4 linked regions of the Homo sapiens genome follow. The protein of the gene in region 4 purifies or fractionates together with the protein of the main gene of each other region. This does not show direct contact. Each region holds a gene or a part of one and is shown on either strand. Other genes may lie near its edges.

What was found.
Region 1: the proteins of CCDC136 (region 4) and CCDC77 purify together in Homo sapiens (affinity purification with mass spectrometry; 2 studies listed by BioGRID and IntAct, with this or other methods). This does not show direct contact.
Region 2: the proteins of CCDC136 (region 4) and GCC2 purify together in Homo sapiens (affinity purification with mass spectrometry; 2 studies listed by BioGRID and IntAct, with this or other methods). This does not show direct contact.
Region 3: the proteins of CCDC136 (region 4) and CCDC88A purify together in Homo sapiens (affinity purification with mass spectrometry; 2 studies listed by BioGRID and IntAct, with this or other methods). This does not show direct contact.

Annotation. Positions count from the first base shown.
Region 1 is NC_000012.12:397,364-404,659, reverse strand, and holds the start of CCDC77 (coiled-coil domain-containing protein 77), read right to left. Parts: upstream 3,017-7,296; 5' UTR 2,976-3,016; intron 1-2,975.
Region 2 is NC_000002.12:108,452,206-108,459,231, reverse strand, and holds part of GCC2 (GRIP and coiled-coil domain-containing protein 2), read right to left. Parts: intron 6,834-7,026; coding exon 6,766-6,833; intron 1-6,765. UniProt on the Homo sapiens protein: Golgin which probably tethers transport vesicles to the trans-Golgi network (TGN) and regulates vesicular transport between the endosomes and the Golgi.
Region 3 is NC_000002.12:55,409,839-55,416,864, forward strand, and holds part of CCDC88A (girdin), read right to left. Parts: intron 1-7,026. UniProt on the Homo sapiens protein: Bifunctional modulator of guanine nucleotide-binding proteins (G proteins). Acts as a non-receptor guanine nucleotide exchange factor which binds to and activates guanine nucleotide-binding protein G(i) alpha subunits.
Region 4 is NC_000007.14:128,808,942-128,815,967, reverse strand, and holds part of CCDC136 (coiled-coil domain-containing protein 136), read right to left. Parts: intron 6,519-7,026; coding exon 6,324-6,518; intron 5,830-6,323; coding exon 5,602-5,829; intron 4,707-5,601; coding exon of another isoform or gene 4,616-4,706; intron 4,169-4,615; coding exon 3,656-4,168; intron 3,261-3,655; coding exon 3,039-3,260; intron 1,331-3,038; coding exon 1,049-1,330; intron 355-1,048; coding exon 37-354; intron 1-36. UniProt on the Homo sapiens protein: May play a role in acrosome formation in spermatogenesis and in fertilization.

The sequences.
Region 1 (7,296 bases), on a different chromosome or scaffold from region 4:
CTGTCCTCACTGTTGCACATGTCTACGAAAAGTTGTCTACACTCACCTCTCTGGCTGCAAGACGGGGCCTTGCTATGTTGCCCAGGCTGGCCTTGAACTCCCGGACTCAAACAATCCTCCTCCCTTGGCCTTCCAAAGTGCTGAGATTACAGGCATGAGCCACTGAGCCAGGCCTCGGGCTTCTACTATGACATCTAACCAAGCTCTTATTGGTCAGCAGACATCCAAATTAATAAATTCAATTGCTCTTTTCTGTTTCTATCCTCCTCCATCCAATAGTTACTCCTTCACTTGTATTCTTAATTAGATAGTGCCAACTACCTATTTATTTATTTATTTTTTGAGACAGAGTCTCACTCTGTTCAGCCCAGGCTGGAGTGCAGTGGCACGATCTTGGCTCACTGCAACCTCCACCTCCTGGGTTCAAGTGATTCTCCTGCCTCAGCCTCCCCAGTGGCTGGGATTACAGGCACCTGCCACTGTGGCTAATTTTTTTTGTATTTTTAGTAAAGACAGGGTTTCGCCATGTTGGCCAGGCTGGTCTCGAACTCCTGACCTCAGATGATCCACCCACCTCTGCCTGCCAGTGTTGGGATTACAGGCGTGAGCCACTGTGCCTGGTAGTGCCAACTACCCTTTAAAAATATATCACTTTGGGACCGGACCTTGGCATGGCCAGGCCATGGCAAGACCCTGTCTTTACCAAAATTTTAAAAATTAGCTGGGCACAGTGGCAATGTAGTCCCACCTGCTTGGTGCGAGGATCACTTCAGCCTGAGGGTTCAAGGCTGCAGCGAGCAGTGATCGTGCCACTGCACTCTAGCCTGGACAACAGCGCAAGACCCTGTCTCAAAAAACAATTAAAATAGGCTGGGCACAGTGGCTCATGCCTGTAATGCCAGCACTTTGGGAGGCCAAGGTGAATGGACTGCTGGAGGTCAGGAGTTTGAGACCAGCCTGGGCAACATGGTGAAACCCTGTCTCTACAAAAATTACAGAATTAGCTGGGAGTGGTGGCACGTGCCTGTAGTCCCAGCTATTCAGGAGGCTGAGGCAGAGGATTGCTTGAGCTTGGGAGGCAGAGGCTGCACTGAGCTGAGATTGCCCCACTGCTCTCCAGCCTAGGTGACAGAGTGAGACCTTACCTGGAAAAAATAATAATAAAAATAAATATTGCTTTGTAGTTGAGAATGTGGGCTCTGATATCAGACTTGGGTTTGAGTCAAAGCCCTGCCTCTTATTAGCTGTGTACCTCAGGCAAGTTATCCTCTCTAAATTTCAGTTACTTCTATGTCATAGGTTGGTGTACGGATATAAGGCCGAGGGACAGTGTTTGACACATATATAAGCACTCAGTAAATGTGGACTATTATTATTATTGACAATTTTACTCCCTTGGCTCAGAGGTTCTGTCTTCAAGTTTCTTTATCATTTCCTCTAACCATTTCTTTGGGAACATCATTATTCCTCCTGTTTTTATTATTAACTCTGTCATCTAAAACACTACATGGCATACAGTAAGTAACAATTACATGTTGAATAAATAAACGACATCTCTTTCAACCTCTTGATTTGAATTAACAAAAATGTAGTGGACATTTTCACCCATAGTCCCACTGGCACTTGAAACGTTTAACTTAAAAAAGAAATCACTCAAGTTAGGTATTTTTTTAGCATCTCAAAGCTAACATTTCCTAAACCTAACACATCATCTTTTTATCCAAACATGCCCCTTCTGACTTTCCTATTTTAGTTACTAATTCAGCGTTTCCAAGCAACCGGGAGTTGGCAACTTAAATTCATCATTTGATCACTCATTCTTCTGAACCTCCTGTCTAACCATATGAATATCTTGTATATTTTATCTCCACAATGACCATGTTAATTCAGAGTCTCAATACTTCTTACCCACACCATTACAACACCTTAACGGTTCTACCTACTCCTTGCGTCTCCTGGACCATTTTCTTTAATAAAATACATCAGTAGCACCTCATAGCCTAAAGCATTAAATCCAATTTGTTAGCCTAGAATTCATGGCTTTCTACATAAGGGCCAAACCTAACTTTCCTGCCTTATTTCTCTCTACTCTCCTAAATGTACCGTTTCCAGATAACTTTCCTGCCTCCATACCTTTGTTCATGAGCTTCCCTCTAGCTGGAACACAACTCCCTCCACAACCCTCATAATTTCACTTAACAAAATCTAGTCTGTACATGAAAACTCATCTTAAATACCACCTCCTTTTTCTCTTTCCTGAGTCTCCCCATCCAAAATGATTTAGCAAAAATGATCTAAGTGCAAAAGAACTGCCTTTGAAATTATCTACAAGTCAACATATTAGAGTGCTTTATTGCTATCGTTTCTCCCATGCTAGCGTGCGCTCCCTACAGACAGAAATCGCGTCTTACTCTTCATTGCCTCTTCCAAAGGAACAATGCCTTTGTTTATAGGTAAATTAACGGGTTTCAGCTAGGGTCTCTGCACCTATCTCCAATACCCTTGCTTAGATATATTCTTATAGCTTGTCTACTAACAATTAACATTTGTGTAGCACTTTGAATTTTTTTCTTTTAGCCACGTGACAAATCTGTACAATTTATTATCCCAACAACCGTTCAGTATTTTCACTATCCCTTATTTCACAAATGAGGAAACTGAGAGCTAGACCAGCGTGGGGTTAGAGTACACCGGAACGCATCTCCAGGGCGCCCGAATCCCGTACTCCTTTTCCCACTTCATCCCATTCTCGACCGCCTCACTGCTCCAGGTCCCAACGCTCCAGCACTCCTGAGGTCTCTCCCTTTGCACATTGGAGCTTTCCTCCTCCGGTCCCCAGCCCCTCCACGGACACCACATTCAGGCTCACGTCCTCTCCTCCGCACTGCTTCCGCAGTTACTTCTCCCTAACCAGATTTTCTTCCCAAGGCTTCTTACCTAACCCCTTCACCCCAAACCCGAAACTCTATACTCACGACACACTAAGACTCCGAGTCAGGGAACGCAACTGAAAAACAAAAGTCAAACCAAGGAGCGGCGCGGCGCCACTGAGCGTCCCTGAATCCGTGCAATCGCGAAGAAGTTTACATGGCCCTTTGGAATGCGCACCAATGGGAAGGGCCTTCACACAGAGGCCCGCCCCCATCTCGCCCCTCCTCGCGGTGCTCCCGACCGCGCAGAGGTCTCTGGGAAATGTAGTTTTCTTCTGCCTGGAGCTCTGCGCGGGGCGACGCAGCTGGGCTGCAACCCGCTCCTCCAGGGACGGGTAGTGTGACGTTTGGGGTCAGAACGCACCACTTTCGGGCACCCCCACTTAAGATTGCTCAACTGCTTTGAGCTCAGGTACTTCGCGTTCATGGTACATATATGTTGTAATTTCCAAGCTTGTCTCAAGAGATAAAGATTCTAAGAAAAGTTTCTTCTTCCATGACCGGGTGGCCTAGAGCCAGGATAGGACCTGAGGTTCAGTTTCTACGGTCAGGGGACTATGTATTAAAATTCTACTATTTGTTCCATAGCAAACACTGCTTCCTTTTCCGGAGAAATGTAAGACACTGGGCTTTAATGATAAAAGCAAGTTCAAAATCCATTATGGTCTTATCTTTCCAGAAAGCAAGGTGTAAAGGTGGGGGAAAAGCACTTTCGTCTCAGAATTACAGCTACTGGTATGGAAAAGCTGGGGCCCTTCGCTGGTGTGAGTCCTAAGGATGTCTAAATGGAACGTGCATCTGCTACAGGCTCGCACTTTCCTTTATTGCGCTTCCCAGGTAACTGTTTTTACAAATGTAAGGTTTGTGGCAACTCTGCATGGAACCAAATCTATCTGCGCCATTTTTCCTACAGCACAGGCTTACTATGTGTCTCTGCACCACATTTGGTAATTTTCACAATATTTCAAACTTTTTCATAATTATTGTATATGTTATGCTGATCTGTTATCCTTTATATTACTATTATAATTGTTTAGGGGCACCATGAACCATGCCCATATAAGATGGCAAACTTAATTCATAAATGTTGTGGATGTTTTAACTGCTCCACAGACCAGCAGTCTCCCTGCCTTTCTCCCTCTCTTCTTGCCTCCTTATTCCTGTGATACAACAATATTGAAATTAGACCAATTAACAATCCTACAGTGGGGGTTCAAGTGAAAGGAAGAGTCACACATCTCTTACTTTAAATAAAAAGCTGAAAATGATTAAGCTCAGTGAAAAAGGCATGTTGAAAGCCAAGACAGGATGAAAGCCAGTCTTCTTGCACCAAAGTTAGCCAAGTTGTGCATGCAAAGGAAAAGTTTTTGAAGGAAATTAAAAGTGCTACTCCAGTAAACACAAAAATGATAAGAAAGTGAAACAGACATTGCTGATATAGAGAAAGTTTGAGTGGTCTGGATAGAAGATCAAACCAGCCACAGCATTCCCTGAAGCCAAAGCCTAATCTGGAGCAAAGTCCTAACTCTTCAATAAAATGAAGGCTGAGACAGGTGAGGAAGCTGCAGAAGAAAAGGTGGAAGATAGCGGAGGCTGGTTCGTGAGGTTTAAGGAAAGGAGCTATTTCCGTTACTTAAAAGTGCAAGGTGGAAGCAGCAAGTGCTGATGTAGATGCCGCAGCAAGTTATTCAGAAGAGCTAACTAAGGTAATTGATTAAGGTGGCTAAACTAAACTACAGACTTTTGATATATATGAACCAGCCTTTTATTGGAAGGAGATGCCAAGTAGTACTTTTGTAGCTAGAGAGAAGTCAATACCTGGCTTCACAGCTTCTAAGAACAGACTGACTCTCATGTTAGGGGCTAATGCAACTGGTGACTTTAAGTTGAAGCCAGTGCCCATTTACATCCCTGAAATCCTAGAGCCCTTAAGAATTATGTTAGATATAGTCTGCCTGTGCTCTATAAATGGAACAACAAAACCTGGATGACAGCATATATGTTTATAGCATGGTTAACTGAGTATTTTAAGTTCACCGTTTTATGTATGTTTTATTTTAAGTCCTACTGCTCAGGAAAAAAAGGATTTCTTTCAAAATATTACTTCTCACTCACAATGCAACTGGTCACCCAAGAGCTCTGGTGGAGGTATGCAAACAGATGAATGTTGCTTTCATGCTTGCAAACACAACAGACATTCTGCAGCTCATGGATCAAGGAGTCATTTTGACTTTCAGGTCTTATTAAGAAATATATTTCAGGCCGGGCACGGTGGCTCACATCTGTAATCCCAGCACTTTGGGAGGCTGAGGTGGGCGGATCACCAGGTCAGGAGATCGAGACCAGCCTGGCCAACATGGAGAAACCCCCGTTTCTACTAGAAATACAAAATTAGCTGGCCATGATGGCGCATGCCTGTAATCCCAGCTACTCAGGAGGCTGAGGCAGGAGAATCACTTGAACCTGGGAGGCGGAGGTTTCAGTGAACTGAGATCGTGCCATTGCACTCCAGCTTGGGCAACAAGAGTGAAACTCCGCCTCAAAAAAAAAAAAATATTTCATAAGGCTATAGCTGCCAGACATAGTGATTTCTCTGGTGGATCTGGGCAAAGTAAATCGAAAACCTTCTGGAAAGGACTCACCACCATTCTAGATGTCCTTAAGATCATTTGTGACTTGGCTTGGTGAGATGTCTCACACCTGTAAACCCAGCACTTTGGAAGGCCAACGTGGGTGGATCACTTAAGCTCAGGAGTGCATGACAAGCCTGGGCAACATAGAAAACCTTGTCTCTATAAAAAAATACAAAAACTAGCCAGGAGTGGTGGCATGCACCTGGCTACTTGGGAGGCTGAGGTGGGAGGATTGCTTGAGCCTGGGAGACCAAGGTTGCAGTGAGCCGAGATTGTGCCACTGCAGTCCAGCCTGAGTGACAGAGCAAGACTGTGTCTCAAAAAAAAAAAAGTAAAAATATATTTAATAAAAAAATTTTAAAAAGAACATTTGTGACTTATGGGAGGAGGTCAATATCAATAATAACAGGAGTTTGGAAGAAGTTAATTCCAATCCTCTTGGATGTCTTTGAGGGGGTTCAAGACTTCATGGACGAAATAACTGCAGATGCTGTGGAAGTAGCAAGAGAACTAGAATTAGAAGTGGAGCCTTGGGAGGCTGAGGCAGGAGAATCGCTTGAACCCGGGAGGCAGAGGTTGCAGTGAGCCCAGATCGCGCCACTGCAGTCCAGCCTGGGCAACAGAGCAAGATTCTGTCTCAAAAAAAAAAAAAAGTGGAACCTGAAGATGTGACTGAATTGCTGCAATCTCATGATGAAACTATGGATGAAGAGTTGCTTCTTATGAATAAGTAAAGAAAGTGGTTTCTTTAGCTGGAATCTACTCCTGGTGAAGATGCTGTGAACATTGCCAAAATGACAACAAAGGGTTTAGAATATTCCATAAACTTAGTCGATAAAGCAGTTGCAGGGTTTGAGGATTGACTTCAACTTTGAAAGAAGTTCTACTATGGGTAAAATGCTATCAAACAGCATTGCATGCTACAGAGAAATCTTTCATGAAAGGAAGAATCAATCAATATCATGAAAGGAAGAATGAAAACAACTTCATTGTTGTCTTATTTTAAGAAATTGCCACAGCCACCCCAGCCTTTAGCAATCAGCACCATGATCAGTCAGCAGCCCCCAACATCAAGGCTAGACCCTCCATCAGTGAAAATATTATGACTTGGCTTAGACGATCATTAGCATTTTTAGAATAAAGTATTTTAAGGCCAGTCGCGGTGGCTCACGCCTGTAATCCCAGCACTGCAGGAGGCTGAGACGGGCGGATCACGAGGTCAGGAGATGGAGACCATCCTGGCTAAGACAGTGAAACCCCATCTCTACTAAAAATACAAAAAATTAGCCGGGCGTGGTGGCGGGCGCCTGTAGTCCCAGCTGCTCGGGAGGCTGAGGCAGGAGAATCACTTGAACCCAGGAGGCAGAGGCTGCAGTGAGCTGAGATCGCGCCACTGCACTCCAGCCTGGGTGACAGAGCAAGACTCTGTCTCAAAAAAAAAAAGCATTTTAAATTAAGGCATGTAAATTTTTTTAAAGAAATAATGCAAACTAGAAATAATGCACTAGACTACAGTATCGTGTAAACACATAGCTTTTTTTATGTACCAGGAAACCGAAAATTTCGAGCAATTTGCTTTATGGTGATATTCACTTTATTATGGTGGTCTGGAACTGAACCTGCAATATCTCCAAGTTATGCCTGTACTCCCAAACCTGCTTTTTTCTCCCTTGTGATTTTCTCTGTTAATTACATTAATATCTTCCCAAACATCTCGGCTCGGTATCTTTTGT
Region 2 (7,026 bases), on a different chromosome or scaffold from region 4:
GGAAATTAAAATGAAAATCAAAAAATTTCTTGGAACAAATGAAAATGGAAACTACAACATACCAAAACCTATGTGATACAACAAAAGCAGTGCTTTTGTATCACAAAACCTATGTGATTTTTTGTATCACAAAACCTGTGTGATACAACAAAAGCAGGACATGAATACTAAGTTTATGGCAATAAACGCCTACATCCAAAAAGTAAAAAGATTTCAAACAATCTAATGATTTACCTCAATGAACCAGAAAGAACAAGCCAAAGCCAAACCCAAAATTAGCAGAAGGAAACGACTAATAAAGATCAAAGCAGAACTAAATGAAATAGAGACTTTTAAAAAAGGCAGAGGATCAACAAAATGAAAAGCTTGTTCTTCAAAAAGATAAACAAAATTGATAAACTACTAGTTAGGCTAACAACAACAAAAAAGAAGACCTAAATAAAATCAGAAATGAAAAAGGAGACATTACAACCATTCTCATAGAAATAAATAGACCATCAGAGAATATTATGAACAGCTATGCACCCACAAACTGGAAAACCTAGAGGAAATGGATAAATTTCTGGAAACATACAACCTATCAAAGAAAAATCCAGGAAAAAATAGAAAACCTGAACAAATTAATAATGAGTAGCAAGAACGAATCAGTAATAAAAAGTCTCCCCACAAAGAAAAGCCCAGAACCAGATGGATGCACACTGAATTCTACCAAATGTATAAAGACCTAATACCAATCCTCCTGAAACTACTCCAAAATACTGAAGAGGTGGCAATTTTCCCTAACTCATTCTAGAAAGCTGGTGCTACCCTGATACCAAAACCAGACAAGGACACAGCAAAAAAAAAAAAAAAAAAAAGAAAGCAACAACCAATATCCCTGATGAACACCAATGCAAAAATCCTCAGCAAAATACTGGCAAACCAAATCTAACAGCACATTGAAAAGATAATACACCATGATCAAATGAATTTATTCGAGGGATGCAAGGATGGTTCAATATATGCAAATCAATGTGACATATCACATCAACAGAATAAAGGGCAAAAGTCGTATGTCATCTCACTAGACGCAGAAAAAGGAATTCATAAAATTCAACATCCCTTCAGGATAAAAACTCTTAGCAAACTAGGCACAGAAGGATTATACCTCAAAATAATAAAGGCCACATATGACAAACTCACATTAACATCACACAAAAATGGGGAAAAGCTGAAAATCTTTCCTCTAAGAACTGAAGACAAAGATGCCCACTTTCACCACTACTATTCAACATGGGACTGACAGTCCTAGCCAGAACAATTAGGCAAGAGAAAGAAATAAACGACATCCAAACTGGAAACATGGAAGTTAAACTGTCCCTCTCTACAGATGACAAAAGACTATCAAAAAATTCTTAGAGCTGATAAATTCAGTAAGGTTGCTGGATACAAATTCAACATACAAAAACCAGTAGCATTTCTATATACCAACAATAAAATAGCTAAAAAAGGAAATCAAGAAGGCAACACCTTTTACAGTAGCTCAAACAAAAGCCAAAGAAGTGTAAGATCTCTATAATGAAAACTACAAAAACACAGATGAAAGAAACTGAAGAGAACACAAATAAGCAGGAAGACATTTCATGCTCACAAAATATTGTTGAAATGATCATACTATCCAAACTAATGTACAGTTCAATGAAATCCCTATTAAAATACCAACACCATTTTTCAAAGAAACAGAAAAAAGAATCCTAATGTTTTCATGAAACCAAAAAAAAAGCCAGAAAAGCTAAAGAAATTCTGAGTTAAAAAATAAAGCGGCGGCATCATTCTACTTGACTTCAAAACATATTACGAGGCTATAGAAACCAAAGCAACAAAGTATTGGTATATAAACAAGCATACAGACCAATGGAACAAAATAGAGAACCCAAAAATAAATCCTCATATTTATACACAACCGATCTTCGACAATGCCATTAAGAACACACACTGGGCAAACGACACCCTCTTAACAAACGGTGCCAGGAAATCCAGGTAACTATATGCAGAAGAATGAAAGTGAGTCCCTATCTCTCACCATTTAGTTGATACAAATATCAACAAAAATAGATTAAAGACTTATATTATATAAGACCCAAAAGTGTAAAACTAAAAGAAGAAAACACAGGGCAAATGCATCAAGACATTGGTCTAGGCAAAGATTTTATGGCTAAGATCTCAAAAGCCCAGGCAACAAAAACAGACAAATAGGACTACATTAAACTGAAAGGCATCTTAAATTTTTTTTTTTTTTTTTTTATGTAAGGGCTCCCTCTGTCACCCAGGCTGGAGTGCAGTAAGTGTGATTATGGCTCACAGCAGCCTCAACCTCCTGGGATCAAGTGATCTTCCTATCTCAGCATCCCAAGAAGATGGGACTACAGGCATGTTCCACCATGTCTGGCTAATTTATATTTTTTTGTAGAAACGGATCTTGCTATGTTTCTCAGGCTGGTCTCAAACTGCTCGGCTCAAGTGATCCTCCTGCCATGGCTTCCCTTAATGCTGAGATTATAGGCTAAAAAGCTTCTGCATAGCAAAAGAAACAATCAACAGCATGAAGAAGACAACCTCTTAAATGGGACAAAATATTTGCAATCTACTCATCCAATATGGGACTAATACCCAGAGTATACAAGGAACTCAAACAACACAACATTAAAAAATAACCCCATTAAAAAATAGGCAAGGGACATGAATAGACATTTCTTAAAAGACAAAGAAATGGCCAAGAAGTATATGATAAAATACTCAATATCACTAATCATCAGGGATATGCAAATCAAAACCACAATAAGGAATGGCTATTAAGAAGAAAAAAAGTAACAGATATTGATGACAATGTGGAGAAAGAACTCTTCTACACTGTTGGTGGAAGTGTAGGTAAGCATAGTCACTATACAAAACAGTTGGGGATTTCTCAGGCCAGGAGCGGTGGCTCACGCCTGTAATCCCAACACTTTGGGAGGCCGAGGCTGGCTCCCAAAGTGGTCAGGGGATCGAGACCATCCTGGCTAATATGGTGAAACCCCATCTCTACTAAAAAATACAAAAAATTAGCCAGGCTTGGTGGCCGGCGCCTGTAGTCCCAGCTACTCAGGACGCTGAGGCAGAAGAATGGTGTGAACCTGGAAGGCAGAGCTTGCAGTGAGCCAAGATCATGCCACTGCACTACAGCCTGGGCGACAGAGCAAGACTCCGTCTCAAAAAAAAGAAAACAGTTGGGGATTTCTCAAAAAACTAAAAATAGAGCTACCATACAATCCAAAAACCCCAATATTGGTAGTCATTGAAAACAAATCAATATAACAAAGGGATATATACACTCCTGTGTTTATTGCAGCACTACTCACAATAGCAAATACATGAAATCAACTTAAGTGCCCATCAAAGGATGAATGGATAAATGTGGTATATATACACAATGGAATACTATATGCCCATAAAAAAGAATAAGATCACGCCATTTCCAGGAATATGGATGGAGCTGGAGGTCATTATGTTAAGTAAAATCTAAGACAGGGAAAGATAAATATTTTTCAAAATAGCCAGAAGACTTGAAATGTACACAACACATATATATGATAAATACCTGGCTGTGGATAGTAAATACTCTGATTTAATGATTATATATTCTGTGCATTTAACAAAATTTCACATGTACCCCATGAATACGTATAAATATAATGGATCAGGAAAAAAAAAGAAGGAAAAGAAAAAAAACCTTAAAGGTAAAGTTGGCTAACTTGGAGAATTTTTTTTTTTTCTTGAGACGGAGTCTCACTCTGTTGCTCAGGCTGTAGTGCAGTGGCACTATCTCAGCTCACTGCAACCTCTGCCTCCTCGGTTCAAGCGATTCTTCTGCCTCAGCTACCAAGTAGCTTGGGCTATAGGCGCGTGCCACCATGCCTGGTTAATTTTTGTATTTTGAGTAGAGATGGGGTTTCACCAAGTTGGCCAGGCTGGTCTCCAATTCCTGACCTCAGGTGATCTGTCCGCCTCAGCCTCCCAAAGTGCTGGGATTACAGATGTGAGCCACCGAGCCTGGCTGAAATTTTCTAATCTTGTCTTTAGGAGTAGTTTTGACAGTGGGAGAATACATTGATGAGTGATAAGGAGGAAACAGCAGGTAGATATTTAAATGTTCTTATTCTGAAATGCAATTCTGTAAAAAGTATTATAAGAGTTAATGGATAAAAAACTTTCTAGAGTGTTTTCTAACACTCTATAGAGGTTGCAGTGAGCGGAGATCACGCCACTGCACTCCAGCCTGGGCGATAGGGAGAAATCCTATCTCAAGAAAAAAAAAAATCCCCCAGAAATAATAAATGGTAGTAATAACAATGATAACTAACAATTATTGGGTACTTATGTGACCAACCCAGTTCTATGTGCAGTAGATATATTACCTTATCAATCCTACATTTCTACATCAATCCTGTTTGTACCTCAATCCTACAAACAGAAAGTATTATTATCGCTGTTCTACAGATGACAAAACTGAATCATAGAGAAAGAATTTAAGAAACTTAGTCAAGGTCACACAGCTGATCAGTAGATGAACAAGGATTTGAAAGCCTGACTCAGGCAGTCTGGGTGTTATCGACCTTCTTCCTTAATTAACATATAGTTGTACTGTGGCTATCATGGATTAAGAAAACATATAATGACTAAATATACAAAGAAGACTACTGTGAACTCAGTAATACTTAAATGAAACAGTACATTATAAAATGAAATGACATTTGTGCACATCATTCTAGCTTCATACACTGTAACTAAATAAAGAACAAAATGATACTGTGTGACATGCATATGGATTTAAAGACCCCTTGTAATAACTCTCTGGGAGTCCCTCAGTAGTTCACTGCTCACAAGTGGGGAGCCACTGATGAGAAAATAAGATAATATATAACCAGGCTGGGCGCAGTGGCTCACGCCCGTAAACCCAGCACTTCGGGAGGACGAGGCAGGTGGATCACGAGGTCAGGAGATCGAGACCATCCTGGCTAACGTGGTGAAACCCTGTTTCTACTAAAAATACAAAAAATTAGCCAGGCATGGTGGCGGGTGCCTGTAGTCCCAGCTACTTGGGAGGCTGAGGCAGGAGAATGGCGTCAACCCAGGAGGCGGAGCTTGCGGTGAGCCGAGATTGTGCCACTGCACTCCAGCCTGGGCGACAAGGCGAGACTCTGTCTCAAAATAAATAAATAAATAAAAATAAATAAATATATAACCAACGGATATTATGCAAAAGCAGTGAAAACAGTATTTCAGAGCTCTGAGATGTAAAAGAAACTTTACAGAAGCTTGGCCTAAGGCGGGCAATGAAAGTGAGGGAATGAAAAAGCATTTGTTAGCATTAAGGGAGTGGAAATAAGAATAAGCAACTCAGATTTTTTGTGTTTTTTTTTTTTTTTTTAAAAACGGAGTCTTGCTGTGTTGCCCAGGCTGGAGTACAGTGGCTCAATCTCAACTCATTGCAACTTCTGCCTCCTGGGTTCAAGCAATCCTCGTGCCTCAGCCTCCTGAGTAGTTGGGATTTCAGGTGTGGGCAATCACGCCCAGCTAAATGTTGTATTTTTAGTACAGACAGGGTTTCACCATGCTGGCCAGGCTGATCTCAAACTCCTGACCTCAAGTGATCCTCCCACCTTGGCCTCCCAAAGTGCTGGGATTACAGGTGTGAGCCACTGCATTTGGCCTGCAACTCAGGTTTTTAAACGGGGAATAAAAACAATATTTTGTTATCTGGCAGTATTATATAAGACTAAAAAGAGAAAGAGAACCCAGTGAGGTTTTTATTGAAATAGGTTAAGTATTTGATGTGTTTAACATAAAGCCATAGAAATAGAGAGAAAAAAGATAAACTGGAACAATATCTTAAAGCTATAATAGGTCTCTGGTGACTGACACATATAGAGAATAAAGGAAACAGAGAAGTTAAAGTGTCTCTAAAGTCAAAAGGTATAAAAAACTGTGGTGCCACTGGTCTAACCAAGGGAAGCAATTTGGTTGAGTTTGATGAGATAAGTGAAATGTGTGAGAGGGAAACACAACTGTGAGATCTGGGTCAGTAGACATGTCCAGGGATATGGATCTATCTATAGATTATATACTGTACACCTAAAATCACTTAAGTCCTGAGCATGGCCAGGTTTTCAGGGGGCTGGGGAAGAGCAGAGAATGAAGTAACAACCATAATTAGAAAATATGGGCTGGGCGTGGTGGCTCACGCCTGTAATCCCAGCACTTTGGGAGGCTGAGGCGGGCGGATCGTGAGGTCAAGAGAGCAAGACCATCTTGGCCAACATGGTGAAATCCCGTCTCTACTTAAAATACAAAAATTAACTGGGTGTGGTGGCGGGCGCCTGTAGTCCCAGCTATTTGGAAGGCTGAGGCAGGAGAACTGCTTGAACTCGGGAGGCAGAGGTTACAGTGAGCCAAGATCACACCACTGCACTTCAGCCTGGTGACAGAGTGAGACTCCATCTCAAAAAAAAAAAAAAAAAAAAAGAAAGAAAAAAGAAAATACGTGGGAAGAGAGTAGAATAATAATTTCAGAACAGAAAGAGACCCAGAGGTCATTAACCCCCTCTTTTTACAGTGAATCAGATAGGTAAAAACAACCAAGGCAGAGAGGAAGTAGAACAGAAACAGAAAGCCAGATAGCCTCTAGCAGACTGACAATCCTCAGGGAAATTTTATTTCTCTTTAGACATTTCCCAACGTAATAATTACCTTAATAATATCACCAGTTCCTTCAGTAACAGGTTTTGATCTGAGTTCTTCAATTTCTTTCTCCAATTCTAAACAATTAAAAAATAAAGGACTCCGGTTCAGAAATAAAGAACATAATTACTGGGAAACTGATAAGTACATTCTCACAAAACCCCCCATAAATCTGCAAATTAGAATATATTTAAGCAGAATAGTATGATTAATCTCTGCACTCATCACTATACTTCAGCATTACATGGCCAATTTTGTTTCCTCCCAACC
Region 3 (7,026 bases), on a different chromosome or scaffold from region 4:
CAAGTGATTCTCCTGCCTCAGCCTCCCGAGTAGCTGGGATTACAGGGGCCCGCCAACATGCCCTGCTAATTTTTGTATTTTTATTAGAGACGGGGTTTCACCATATTGGCCAGGCTGATCTTGAACTCCTGACCTCAAGTGATCCACCCGCCTCAGCCTCCCAAAGTGCTGGGATTACAGGTGTGAGCCCCCAAGTCTGGCCTACCTCCCCACTTTTAAATGACACTCCAGGTGCCCAGAACTTTGCAATTTCTTGCCCAAGCACTTCTAACTCAATTTGAAGGCCCACACAGGCCTCTTTCCTAGGTCTGTCCTTAGAAAAGACTGTGCTACACTTGTGTACACCCTTGGGCCAAGGAGTACTTGTTTGGGGATGGGAGTACAAGAGCTTAGACCTTGTGCGTGCATGCAAGGTGTTCACAGCATGTACAGGAGACCTCTTTGTGGTGCTAGAAAGAGCCAGAGATGACGGGAGGAGGTTGGGCTTAACCACACTCTGCTGCAAAACTGTGAATTTATGAATTCTAAATTCCACAGATTTTAAATTTGAAACTTTCAAGTCATTATGAAGGTATATTTATCAAGAGAAAAGACTAGAATATAGATAATGATTTGTTGGCCTGGTTTATAAGCTTTAAATATTTAGGCCTATTGTGGTAAATGGATGCTTATCCTGGATCTTACAAATGTTAGGGGCAGATCTCCTCTCACTCAGAGTGAAGTTGATGGGTTTTATCCACCTATTTTTATTAATTATTAAAGTAGGCCAGGCACACTGGCTCACGCCTCTAATCTCTGCACTTTGGGAGGCTGAGGTGGTGGATAGCTTGAACCCAGGAGATTGGAACCAGAATGGGCAACACAGCAAAACTCTGCCTTTACAAAAAACAAAAAACAAAAAAAAGAAAAGAAAAATTAGCTGGGCATGGTAGTAGTCCTAGCTACTCAGGAGGCTGAGGTGAGAGGATCGTTTGAGCCCAGGAGGCAGAGGTTGCAGTGAACCAAGATCTCGCCACTGCATTCCAGTCTCGGCAAGAGAGAGAGGCCTTGTCTCAAAAAAAAAAAAAAATTATTAAACTAGTAAAATAGATCTAAGAAGGCATAAAAATAGAATCAGGAATAAAGAGAACATTTAAAGTAATTTTCCAGTTTCAATAACTAGCTAAATATTAAATGATTGATTCAGGATTTAAACTTTCAAGCCCATGTTTTTGTTTTTGCCCTCCCACCACTCTGACTCTCCAAAAGCAGCCAGTTTACTAATTAATAAATTAAGTATTATACAGATGTCCCAGTACCAAGTATAATCTCAAATACTATTTCTGAATATTGAAAACTTAATGCCTAGAATGGTATCAAACTGTTTCATGGATCCTAAAAGAAAGTCAGCTGGTGTCCTTTTGAAAGAACTGGTCTTCCTTTCCATTTATCCTGTGAGAACTAGTCTCCCATAATATATATTAAGAGAAAATTTTCAGTTAAAAAATTTAAAAATACTCTCAGGTATAACAACTAGTTCACCTGTTCTTCTCTAGGTTCTCATCATTTCTGTAGTTTAACTACATATGAATCATATTGAGAATGAGGCAATCACAATGGACTTTTCTTGAAGACAGTCCAATACAAAGCTGTGGACAAAAAAATCTCAACATGGCCCAGGCACGGTGGCTCATGCCTGTAATCCCAGCATGAGATTTTGGGAGGCTCAGGTGGACAGATCACTTGAGGTCAGGAGTTCGAAACCAGCCTGGCCAAAATGGTGAAATCCCGTCTCTACTAAAAACACAAAACTTCACCAGGCACGGTGGTGGGCACCTTGTAATCCCAACTACTCAGGAGGCTGAGACAGGAGAATTGGTTGAACCTGGGAGAAGGAGGTTGCAGTGAGCCGAGATCACGCCACTGTACTCCAGCCTAGACGACAGAGTAAGACTCCGTCTCAAAAAAAAAAAAAAAAAAAAAAAACTCAACATATTGGACAGGAAAGTTATTGGAAACCAAACTGAAAGCACTGTATATTCTAATACTATAAAAAACCATGGACCATGAAATCTTGCTCCTATCACCTTGCCTCAAAGGAGATATAACATCGGTGGGAAAAATATCCAATAAAGGTAATTAAAACAAATACGGGGAAAGAGAGAGAACAAACAAAAAGGAGAAACAGAAGACAAACTAAAAAATAAACTAAATTCTACAGTACTAAAACTAGAAGGTATTCTCAAAATTTTGAAAATTAATAAAATTGCAGCTATCTTCACTTATTCCTTCAACATTTACTTACAACTTACGACATGCCAACTTCTATGCTAGGTGCTAGTGATACATGCTAAGTACTAGGTTAGGTGCTAGTAATATGTGAGACAAAACATCTAGCCCCTAAACAGTAATACTGCAAAGCAATAGCTACGCAGGTGAAGGTACTTCCGAATCATAAGGAAGAAAACAACTCTGCCTGGGGACTTCACAAGGTATTAAAGGAAGAGCAGGAATTGGTTAGTCAAAGAAAAGGGGAAGGATAGTCTAGAGCAGGAGTCTCTAACCCCTGGGCCATGGATTGGGTCCATGGCTTGTTAGGAAAGCCACACAGCAGATCAGTGGTGGGCGGGCAAGCATTACTGCCTGAGCTCTGCCTCCTGTCAGATCAACAACAGCATTAGATTCTCACAGGACCACAAACCCTATTGTGAACTGTAGATGCGAGGGATCTAGGTTGCACTCTCCTCATAAGAATCTAATGGCTGATGATCTGAGGTAGAACAGTTTCATCCTGAAACCATCTCCCCTCAGCCTTGCTCCATGTAAAAATCGTCTTCCATGAAACCAGTCCTTGCTGCCAAAAAGGTTGGGGACCGCTGGTCTTGAAGAAAATAATTCTAATGATAATAATATAAATAAAACAATAAAGAGCTAACATTTATTGGACACTTTCTATATGTTAAGCATTGTACATACATTATTCTATTTGATTCTCATAACAATCCTGTGACTTTTTATCCCACTTACAAATTAAGTAACTTACTAAAGATCATACAGCTATATAGAGGTGACACTAACAGAGATCATACAAAACTAAGCTGTCGGCCAGGCGCAGTGGCTCATGCCTGTAATGCCAGCCACTTTGGGAAGCTGAGGTGGGAGGATCACTTGAACCCAGGAATTCAAGACCAGCCTGGGCAAAAAAGTGAGACCCGGTCTCTATAAAAAAAATTTTAAAAAATTAGCCAGGTGCAGTAGCACATGCCTGCAGTCCCAGCTGCTTGGGAAGCTGAGGTGGGAGGATTGCTTCAGCCTAGGAGTTTGAGGTTGCAGTGGGTTGCGATTGTGCCACTGCAGTCCAGCCTGGGTGACAGAGTGAGATCCTGTCTCAAAAACAAACAAACAAACAAAAAAACTAAGCTGTGAACTATCATGATTTACTTGAGGAGCCATAAGTAGGTAGATATAGCATAGCACAGGATAATAATAATGACAGCAACCAGCACTGGGGATATAGTGGGTCAACAAAACAGAAAATAGACTTATCTGTCCCTGCCTTAGTAGATAATCCTTCCCCATCAGGAAGGGAAACATTATCTCCCATCTTATAAATGTAGGAACTGTAATTTGGAGATATTAGGCTCACATACCAATAAGTAGCACAGCTAGAACTGAACCCAAGTCTATGTCTATCTGACATAAGGCTCAAATTCATTCCACTTTACTACACATGGCTGTATTATTCAATCATTCAACAGAAATATATCAAGAATGTACTGTGTGTCAAACACTGTCCTAAGAATACAGAGACAAAAGATAGAGTCCCTGGCTTCAGGAAACTCACAGCCTAGTCAATAGAGTCAAGCAAAGAGTCAGGCTGGTTTGTGCCTATAATCCCAGAACTTTGGGAGGCTGAGGTGGGTGGATCGCTTGAGACCAGCCTGGGCAACACAGTGAAACTCCATCTCTACAAAAAATACAAAAATTAGTCAAGCATGGTAGCGCGTGCCTGTGGTCCTAGGTACTTGGGAGGCTAAGGTGGGAGGATAGCTTGAGCCCGGGAGGTGAAGGCTGCAGTGAGCGGTGATCATGCCCCTGCACTCCAGCCCGGGCAACAGAACAAGACCGTCTCAAAAAACAAAAACAAAAACAAAAAAAAAAAACAAGCAAACAAACAAACAAAAAAGGGCAGATGACTTCTGAAGTCCCTTCAAACCCAAAATTCTAAAGGAAAAGCCATAACAAGTTTATCACAATTACCAAGTGTTCCAAGTACAGCTCTCTATAACTATCTAATAGGGTTGAATCATAAATAATAATTCCAAATATTGTTCTGATACTATTAACAATTTTCTCAGTACTTAAAATCCTAAGACATCCATATTTTCAACCGTTTGGGTAATATGAATTGGACGTTTTTAAAATTTTAGGAGTATGAAATTAACTACAATGTCACAAATTCCTTAAAAACTCACAGCAAGTAATATTCAAAACTGGCTCCAGAATTAAATGACATCTCAAACAGGAAAATAATTATTTCTACTTCACTGTCACCAAGCCCTACAACTGATAACAATAAAGAAAAAAGATTTCAATCCACTGAAGTAGGAAAATGCCCTACAGCGTACAGAAGAGCTGGCCCATCATTCCAGATCTCTGAATAGCTTTCCTCTTCCTTCCCATTAGTTTAAGACGATTGAAGTCATGTTACAAGTTCTAACAGAGATTATTTGCTTCAAAAAGCTACTCAATGAAATTCAGGATTCATCTCTGAATACAGTAAATCTCAAGTCAGTGAAAAGACTTCAAAATTGTGAGGCAGAGTCAGTAAACAGTGTCATGAAGAAGTTAGCTCTTCACTTTCAGAGTCTGGGTGCAAAACAGCAACAACAGAGTCATTAAATTAATCAATTTTCTTAGTCTTAATAAACATTTTAGATGAAAAAACTTATATAATAAGGTTCCTGGCCAGGTGTGGTGGCTAATGCCTGTAATCCCAGCACTTTGGGAGGCTGAGGCAGGCGGATCACGAGGTCAGGAGATCGAGACCATCCTGGCTAACACGGTGAAACCCCGTCTCTACTAAAAAAATACAAAAAATTAGCCAGGCGTGGTGGTGGGTGCCTGTAGCCCCAGTTACTCGGGAGCCTGAGGCAGGAGAATGGCGTGAACCCGGGAGGTAGAGCTTGCAGTGAGTTGAGATCACACCACTGCACTCCCGCCTGGGCATGGAGCGAGACTCTGTTTCAAAAAAAAAAAAAAAGGTTCCTATAAAAAAAGTCCATCTCACATCTAAAAGCAGTAATATAAGACTAGCAGAGCAAAAATGTAATTAAAAGTATATAAACAGCCAGGCATTGTGGTGCGCGTGCCTGTAGTCCCAACTACTCAGATGTTTAGGGTGGGAGGATGGCCTGACCCCAGGAGTTTGAGGCCATAATGCACTATGATCACATATTCCAGCCTGAGCAACATAGCCAGACCCCATCTTGAAAAACAAAAAAGTATACAAACATATTTCTACTGGTGGCCAGAGACCAAATTTGCCCTCCTCCCTGAAACAACTGGGGGGAAAAAAAGACAAAATACATAAAACGTTTTTCAAGACATTGGACATCAGGCAACAAAAGACAGTGATCCCCAATCGATGGGAAACAAGCATGAATCCAACAACTGCTCCAGCATTATGGCCTTGAAAGAGTTTCCAGGCCACAGAACAGGAAGAGGGGAATCCAGGCAGAGCACAATGGTCTGAGCTGAGGGGACAGAACTGAGTCTGGAGACAGCAAGGTAGCTAAAGTACACAGGGCAGAGTACTTAACAGAGTTGAACAGTGAGAAAGATCTGCAGAGGGTATCCCTCAAGTCTGAGTACTTATCAGAATATAAGTGTGAGGAAACTACCCAAAGATAGTGAAAGAACCACCAAAAAGACTGAGAGCGAACACCACCAAGTAGGTCCTGTTTCCACCAGCTGGAGTATTCAGAGGGGTTTTGCCTCAACAGTGTGACAAAGTAGTACTGCCTAACAAATCTTAAAAGCATGTCCCCAAAAGATCAAACTGTTTTCAGGTAACTTAATGCATCCCAGAACGAAGCTCAAGATTTTTGTATTTAATGGAATACAAAAATATCCAGCGCCAAACAAGCTAAAATTTCAAATGACTGGCATCAAATTAAAAAAAAAATCACCAGGCATGCAAAAGCAACAGAATCCATAATGGGAAGAAATATCAATCAACCGAAACCAACCCCAAAATGACACAGACAGAATTAGCAGACATAGACATTAAGCCAATTATAACTGTATTCCATATGTTCAAGAAGCTAGAGAAAAGACAGAGCATGAAAAACATAGACATGGAAGATATAAGACAATTTCTAAAGATGAAGTTATAATATCTGGAATGAAAAATATGGTGGGTGGGATTAAGAGCAGACTAAACATTATAGAAGAAAAAATTAATAAATTTGGAGACATCACAACAGACTATCCAAAATGAAACAAAGAAGACTGAAAGAAAATTGAATTAAACATCAGTAAGTTTTAAGACAACATCAAAGCTACTAATATATATGTAACTGGACTTCCAAAAGGGTGAAGAGGTCAAATAAATAAATAAATAAATATATATATATATATATATATATATATATATATATATATATATGTATATATTTTCTTCTAGGAATAATGACTGAAACTTTTCTAAATTTGATAAAAACTATAAACCCACAGATCCAAGACACTCATTGAATTCCAAGCACAAGAAACATGGAAAATATATAAATAGTTTCATTTACAAAGGGTTCTTGCTCACAAATTCTGTAACTAAATGTACTGTAGAAATTAGACTAGGCCTAACTTTTACATTTACTAGGTATAGAGTTACAACTGACACTTTATAATAGAGTACATTAAAGCATACATTAATCTAAGTAAAGTGCTTAACAGAAATCCTAATGACTTCAAAATTAGCAAAATACAGCTTATAAAACAATGTATATTTTGTTGCCCTATCAGTTAAATAATTTATTAAGATAAATT
Region 4 (7,026 bases):
CACTTCCCACTTGATCTAGGCTTTGGCTCTGGTTACCTTTTTGCTCTCGGAAAGTCTGAGGGGGTTATTTTCTTCGGGACTTTCAAGGGAAGAGTCGGCGTCATCCTCCTCCTCTTCACTGTCTTCTTCCTTCTCCTCTTCCTCTTTGTCCTCTTCATTTTCCTCCTGATCTTCTGTGGATTTAGCTTCCTCAGGATCTGCTGGCTCAGCAACTAGCTCATCCCCACACTGCTCCTTTGCTTCCTCTTTCACTTGCTTTTTTTCCTCCTCCATCTCCTCTTTCTTTTCCTCCTCTTTTGCTAGTCCATCTAATTTCCTCTGGCTGGCCTTGTAGTACAGCACTACCTCCAGACTCTGTGGGGTGGGAGTAGGGCAGGATGGCGGCTGCGTTACCTGTGAAGCTCCTAATCTCATGACAATGCTGTACTAGCTCCAGGAAACATGACTTCCAGCATGTCAGAGTGCAAGGGTGTGGCCCGGTGCTCTGGGACTGTGAGCCAATCCCCTGAGCATATGTAGAGGGCATCACACCTCACCTCTCAGGGCCACTATGTCTGTTGGCCATTAAGCCATTTCAAACAGCTACCACAACTAAAGAGTCTTGGGCTCTGCACCTAAATTGTTGCTTCCCACCCCTACAGTGACTCTTCTTTTACCCAATCCTCTTTCACTTATTAGTACATAACTACTTTGAACAAATTCCTCCCTCTTCATCTATTTGGTTCTTCTCTTGGGCATGTAACCCAGGAAGAACAGGAGCCCCAACAAATGGGGCTGGGCAAACTGAAGGAGTTGTCCAGCCTAGGGGCTGTGGTCCTTTGGGGCTGCACCTCCCGATGTGAGTTGTCTGTGTTCCACTCTCCCCATAACTTCACAGGAAAAGGGAGCACCCACTTTCCATTAAGATGGGAACCACTGTAGACACTTCAGAGATCCCAGAAGCTTCTCTACAAATCCCTTGCCTGGTTGAAAGGGTTGTGGAGGCAATGCTTCTTCCCAGGATCTCCTCCTCCTTTCTGCTTATCTGGCTACCAAGGTTACTACTCACCTTTCTGGTCTCAAGGTCGCTCTCAGAAGTATCCGAGCATGGCTTGGTCACCTTTTTCATTTTAACCCCATTGGCATTCTTGTTCATGTTCTTATTAGCATTCTTCCCCCGGGCTTCTTTGACAACAGAAGGCCTCTTCTCCCTGAGCTGGCGGAGCTCCTCCTGGCAGCACTGCAGCTGCCCCTCCAGCTGCTCCTGCACTACCAGAAGCCGCCCCTGCTCATCCATGCTAGCCTGGTATTGCAGCTGCAGCTCCCGCAGCTTGGTCTGCAGTTCTTTGATCTGTTGGTAGTGGAGGGCCAGTTACCCAGAGTTGGCTGGTTATGCAACCAGTTGGCTGACCACGCAACCAAACTCAGCCCTGCTTGGGGGTCACTGTCTCAGAAATCTCCCTGTTAAAGCCCATAGGAAGTAGACAATAAAGAAAATATTCAACGGTGGAAAATGAGCCTCTCAAATAGTTTTACAAATAGCTTCTCCTAACTTGAGGCACCTGATGATGTCCATCTAATAAGATGAAAAAAACGGCAGGGCGCAGCGGCTCACTTGCCATCCAGTGTAATCCCAGCACTTCAAGAGGCTGAGGTGGGCAGATCACTTGAGGTCAGGAGTTCGAGACCAGCCTGGCCAACATGGTGAAACCCCATGTCTACTAAAAATACAAACATTCGCTGGGCTTATTGGAGCGCGCCTGTAGTCCCAGAAACTTGGGAAGCTGAAACAGGAGAATCACTTGAACCCAGGAGGCGGAGGTTGCAGGAAGCTGAGATCGTGCCACTGCACTCCAGCCTGGTGACAGAGCAAGACTCTGTCTCAAAAAAAAAAAAGAAGGTCAAAACAATGATTTAAATGGTGTTTTCTACTGTGACTGGGGAATAACAATAGGGCTGCTACCAATTCTGAACCTCAGGGATTTATTATATAATTCTTTTTTTTGAGACAAGAGTTTCACTCTTGTTGCCCAGGCTGGAGTGCAATGGCATGATCTTGGCTCACCGCAACCTCCGCCTCCTGGATTCAAGCGGTTTTCCTGCCTCAGCCTCTTGAGTAGCTGGCATTACAGGCATGCGCCACCATGCCCAGCTAATTTTGTGTATTTTTAGTAGAGATGGGGTTTCTCCAAGTTGGCCAGGCTGGTCTCAAACTCCTGACCTCAAGTGATCCACCCGCCTCGGCCTCCCAAAGTGCTGAGATTACAGGGGTGAGCCACCGCACCTGGCCTAGAATTCTTTTTATGGGAACTCCTACTTCATCCAACCCATCTCTCTAACAGGAACAATTACTTAAAGAACTGTGTTGTACACTCCTGAAGTGTGTACTGGGCTCCTGCACCTCACCCTGGAAACAGAGGCAAGTCACATCCTGCTCCCTGATCTCGGGTTTTGTCTTCCTTGGCTGATGGCAGCACACAACCATCCCCTCAGTAGGTACCAATACTAGCCAATCTGGACCCATGTGTTCGCTGCTCTCTGAATCTCTCCCGTGTGTATACAAAGAGACCCCCACTGGACCGTGAACCCCTGGCCAGAGACAAGACTTCTGTCCCATTCCTAGGGGGTGCAGAGCACTCTTCTTGGCATTGTGAGCGATCCAAAAGGAGACATGTCCCTGTCCTTGAGCTGCTTGCAATCTAGTTGGTGCTCCTAGTTGGTGCACCGGGAGACAAGGCAAATGCACACAAAATGATGAAAGAAGATTGGCAAATGCAAAAATACAGTTCTACAGAAGTGGTCTAGAACACAAAGCAAAAGAGAACAGAAGTGGCAAAGGGAGAAAGAGAGAAATCATTCGATGAGAGAAGTCCTGATGACTAGTAAACCCCAGCTCCACGGGCACTTGGGAAATGTCATCAGGGATGGAGCAGACTGCCCAGCCTCTGAGGTGCATATTCTCCCTGCTTTGTCCCTCTCTTTAGCCTCTATGAAGTGGCCATGACCTCTATGGCTCCAGGGGCTGCCAGAGGAAACCCTGCCTCCCTGACAGTGGTTACCTCATTCTTGTCGTTCTGGGGGGCCATGGGCTTTTCAAGGCATTCCATGCACTCCTTGAACTCCCTTTCACAGGCATCCAGCTCTTCCTTCAGGTCTTTCTGCTTGGCCAGTAACTTTTCCATCTGCTCTTGCAGCTGGCTGTGTTCCTCCTGGCTTATCTGGTACATGGCCTGCACCGCCTGCAGCTTGATCAGCACTTTCACAACCATTTCCTCAAAGCGCTGCGGGGGGTGGGGGAGCAACAATAGCACCCTGAGGAGCACCTAAGCTCCGCCCTACTCTGCTGGGCCCTTCCCTGGATACCAAACAATGGCCACCAGGATCCAGAGATGCCCGCGGGGGATTACTATATTTACCCCCATAAAGAGCATCGTGGCTGTGGTGAGGAAACGGACTGAATCTTATGGGCCTCTGTCCAGATGGGGGATTCTCTCTATGAGAGGGCTGAGCGGGAGACCAGGCTGCCATGGGTAGAGGGCTTCGCTTACTTCCAATAGTTCCCCAGGTCAGTTCTGACCCCATTCCCACACTTCTTGCCCCTTCCCCTGGCGATGTATCTCTTAAAAAGACAAGAGTCCATCGTCCCCTGCCTGACCTGTCACCTGGCAACCATTACCTCCATGTCTTCAGGCTCAGCAGGTTCCTCGTCAGTGCAGCTGCTGACAAAACTCTTCTGGCAGGTGTCAGAGCTACTGGTGCTGCCGTAACTCTTCTTATAGGTAATGCTGCTGTTGCTGGTAGTGCAGTAACTCTTCCCATAGGCCTCACTGGCACTGGTGCTGCTGTCATAGCTCTTGAGAAAGCTCTTGCTGCTGGTCTGGGTGCTGGTGTAACTCTTGTAATAGCTCTCATTGTCATCCACAGTGGTATCATAAGTCTTGCGACAGTTCTCATTGCTGGGGACCATGCTACCATAGCTCTTCCCGTAGGACTCAAGGCTCATTTTTATAGAAGGGGACTGGACTTGAAGCAGCTGCATTTCTTCCAGGCAGAGCTGCAAGTCTGCCTGCAGCCTCTTCCGCTCCTCTAGGAGCCTCCCTTGCTCTTGCTGCAAGAGCTCCTGCTTCGCCTGACCGGCGTCATACATCACCTGCAGGGCCTGCATCTGCTCCATGAGCAGCTTGGATTGCTGGGGGCAGGGGTGGGGAGACAGTATCATTACTCTGACACTTCAGTCCTTCCAGCTGCACCTCTCCTGGTACAGATGTCTGAGAGCACACCTTAGAGAATGGCACACCTACATTTCCACCTCACCCCGGCCTATGTCTCTGACTTAGCCTATAGGTAACTGGCATGTATCAGTTTCTTGCTCATTTGGGAAAATCTCCCCAGGGCAGATACTCCATGATTTCCGGGCTCCCATTTCGGCTGGTTTCTGCACTTTGGTACATCCCTGTCTCCTTGGAGCAGTGCCGAGTGGGTTTCCAGAACACCCTGGCTCCCTACCACACCCTCTTCTCAGTCAGGTATACCTGTTATCCTGACCTTCAGGCTCAGTCCCCTCGCCCACCCCTAGTTCTAAAATCAGCCCCGGCCTTGAATGCGGCAATATGAAGAATTGGAATCAAAGTCTTACTATTAGTTCCTGTATCTCCTGCCCCAATTCTGAATCTGGCCTCTGGGCATGTTGGGCCTGGCTTCTTGGCTGCTGATGTCCAGGATGAGATCTGATCAGTTAAGGAAATATTTTATACCTGGTTCCCAGCTGTGTTACCCAGGCCTCCAGCCTGGACATCTGATGCCCCTGGAATATGATCCAGCCTCACAGTGTTGACTTCTGCTACTCCCTGGTTCTCCTTGTTCAGAATAAGATCTGAATGAATAGATTTGGCCTAAACCGAAACTGTCTACCTGCCCCTCCTTGCCCACGCTGAGACCTCAGAACAACTTTATCCCCCAACCCTGAAGAGAATTGTATGGTGATCTCCACCTGTGTCACCTCATCTGAATGACCTCTTGCTGGTACTTGAGAGGCATCAATTTTCTGGTCTAACCCCTGTGACCTTGCTCTGTTACTGCCACCAAAGTTCCAATGAAGATAGTGTGGTCAGTACTAAGAACCCCATATGCTAGGAATTCTTCTCTTGGAAATGAAAGGCCCCAAATTTGCCTCATAGAGAACACCAAAGGTGATAGATTTTGATAACTGAGAAGTGTACTTTTCCACTCAAGAAAAAGATGACATTTAGAGTCAGTCCAAAGGAATCCAAACAAACACCAAACTGATATTATACATCTTACTGGGAATGAGTCGAATGATCTGATGACAGACTTCTGGTCATCCCAGCTCTGCCCTGAGTGCTCATAGTGCTTCAACTGGGCACTGTGAATATCAGTGTGATAAAGGATAATGGCATCTAGGTGAGGTCCTCAGGCCGTATCTAAAAGCCACCTCTTAATGGAGCCTGTGAGTGGTCACAGCTGGTGAAAGGCAGGGCTTTTGCCTTATCCTTACCCCTGGCCAAACACGCCTTCCCAACTCTGACCCTTCGGCGGTGCCCACTCTCTCTGCCATGCTGTTGTGCTCAGGAGAACTGTCTCCCTACCTCTTGCTATGGTTACCTTGTTTCGATTACATTTGGAGGACTTAGCCAATTTGGAATCATCGGGATTCTCCAACACTTCCTGGAAATGAGACTCTTTGAAACGTCGCAGCTCTTCGTGGATCTCTAATTGTTCTTTTAATACACAGTCTTGGTTCTGTATCAGCTTCTTCTGTTCCTCCTGCATGCCTTGGTAGAGCAGCTGCAGCTCACACAGGTCTTCTAACTTGGTGAGTAGCTCCTGACTCTGAGGCGGAGTAGAAGGAAGGAGGCAAGGGATGGTGGTGGTCACACAGGAAGTCTGATGCCTCCTTGGTGCCTCATCCCCGTTGTGAACAATTCCCTGAAGAATCTCAGGGTTGACTTCACAGAGCCCATCTGGGGACGGGGGAGCCCTTCTATGGAGACCTGCTAAAAGTGGCAGTGGTCTCTTGTGTTGGGATATATTTTGTAGTTTACAAAGTGGCTTCAGGTGCATTTTCTCCAGATGGACTAAATACCTAAATATAAACTGCTGCACAGATTCCTGAGTATAAAAGGTATTTTAAGATTTAAAGCCCTTATAAGAAAAACTCTAATTGGCTCTATGGAGCTTTTTGGTTTGGGGAGAGTGGTGAGAAAGTAAGGAGTGGTTGGTAAGAGAAAAAGTTCAATCCCCACCCTTTTATTTTTCCCTAGTCACACAGGGAAGCTTCTCAGAGCAGCTTCCCCGCAGTTAGCAGCTGCCTGTGGCAGAGTTACCTTGAGTAAGAGGCCACTCTTTGGCAGTGGCAGTGTGAGCCTGTGCAGCTCTTCCTGCAGCTGGCCCTGCTCCTCCTGCATCCTCCTCTGATCCTCCAGGAGCTCACACTGCTCCATCTGCAGCTGCCCCATCTCCTTCTGGCTGGCCTTGTACTTTTCCTGCAATTCTGTCAGTCTGGACAGCAGTGTGTCACACTGTGGGTGGGGGCGGGTGTGGAGGGGGTGGTTACTCTGTAAGGTAAGCTTCTTGGGTGGCTAACAGAGCACTTCTGCGCTCTCCTGCCTCTTGTGATCCTCTCCCTGTGCAGTCACCTTGGACTGGTCACCCCAAGCCACAATGCATTCTGGCTGTTTAGATACCGATTGGGGATCCCCTGCAGGCTGCTCCTTCAGAGCAGGTTGCTCTAGACTGGTGGCTGGCCTTGCTCTAAACTTCCACCATTCCTTTCTGGGGGCAGTTTGATGGGGAATGCTATCGATGCCCCTTTCTCATTTCCCCCTTCCTCTTCTCCGGCCCTTTCCTTTATACACCATATTCCCACCCTGTTGGGAACTCTTAGCTCCTGTTATTCTCATTAACCCCAGTTGTTTTTTAATGCAACTACACTCCTTACAAATAAGGACTTAATTTCACCCTAATTTTTCCCATTTTTGCTTTCCTAATTCTCTCTTTAAATCTTTAGAAAGTATGCGCTATTGGTAA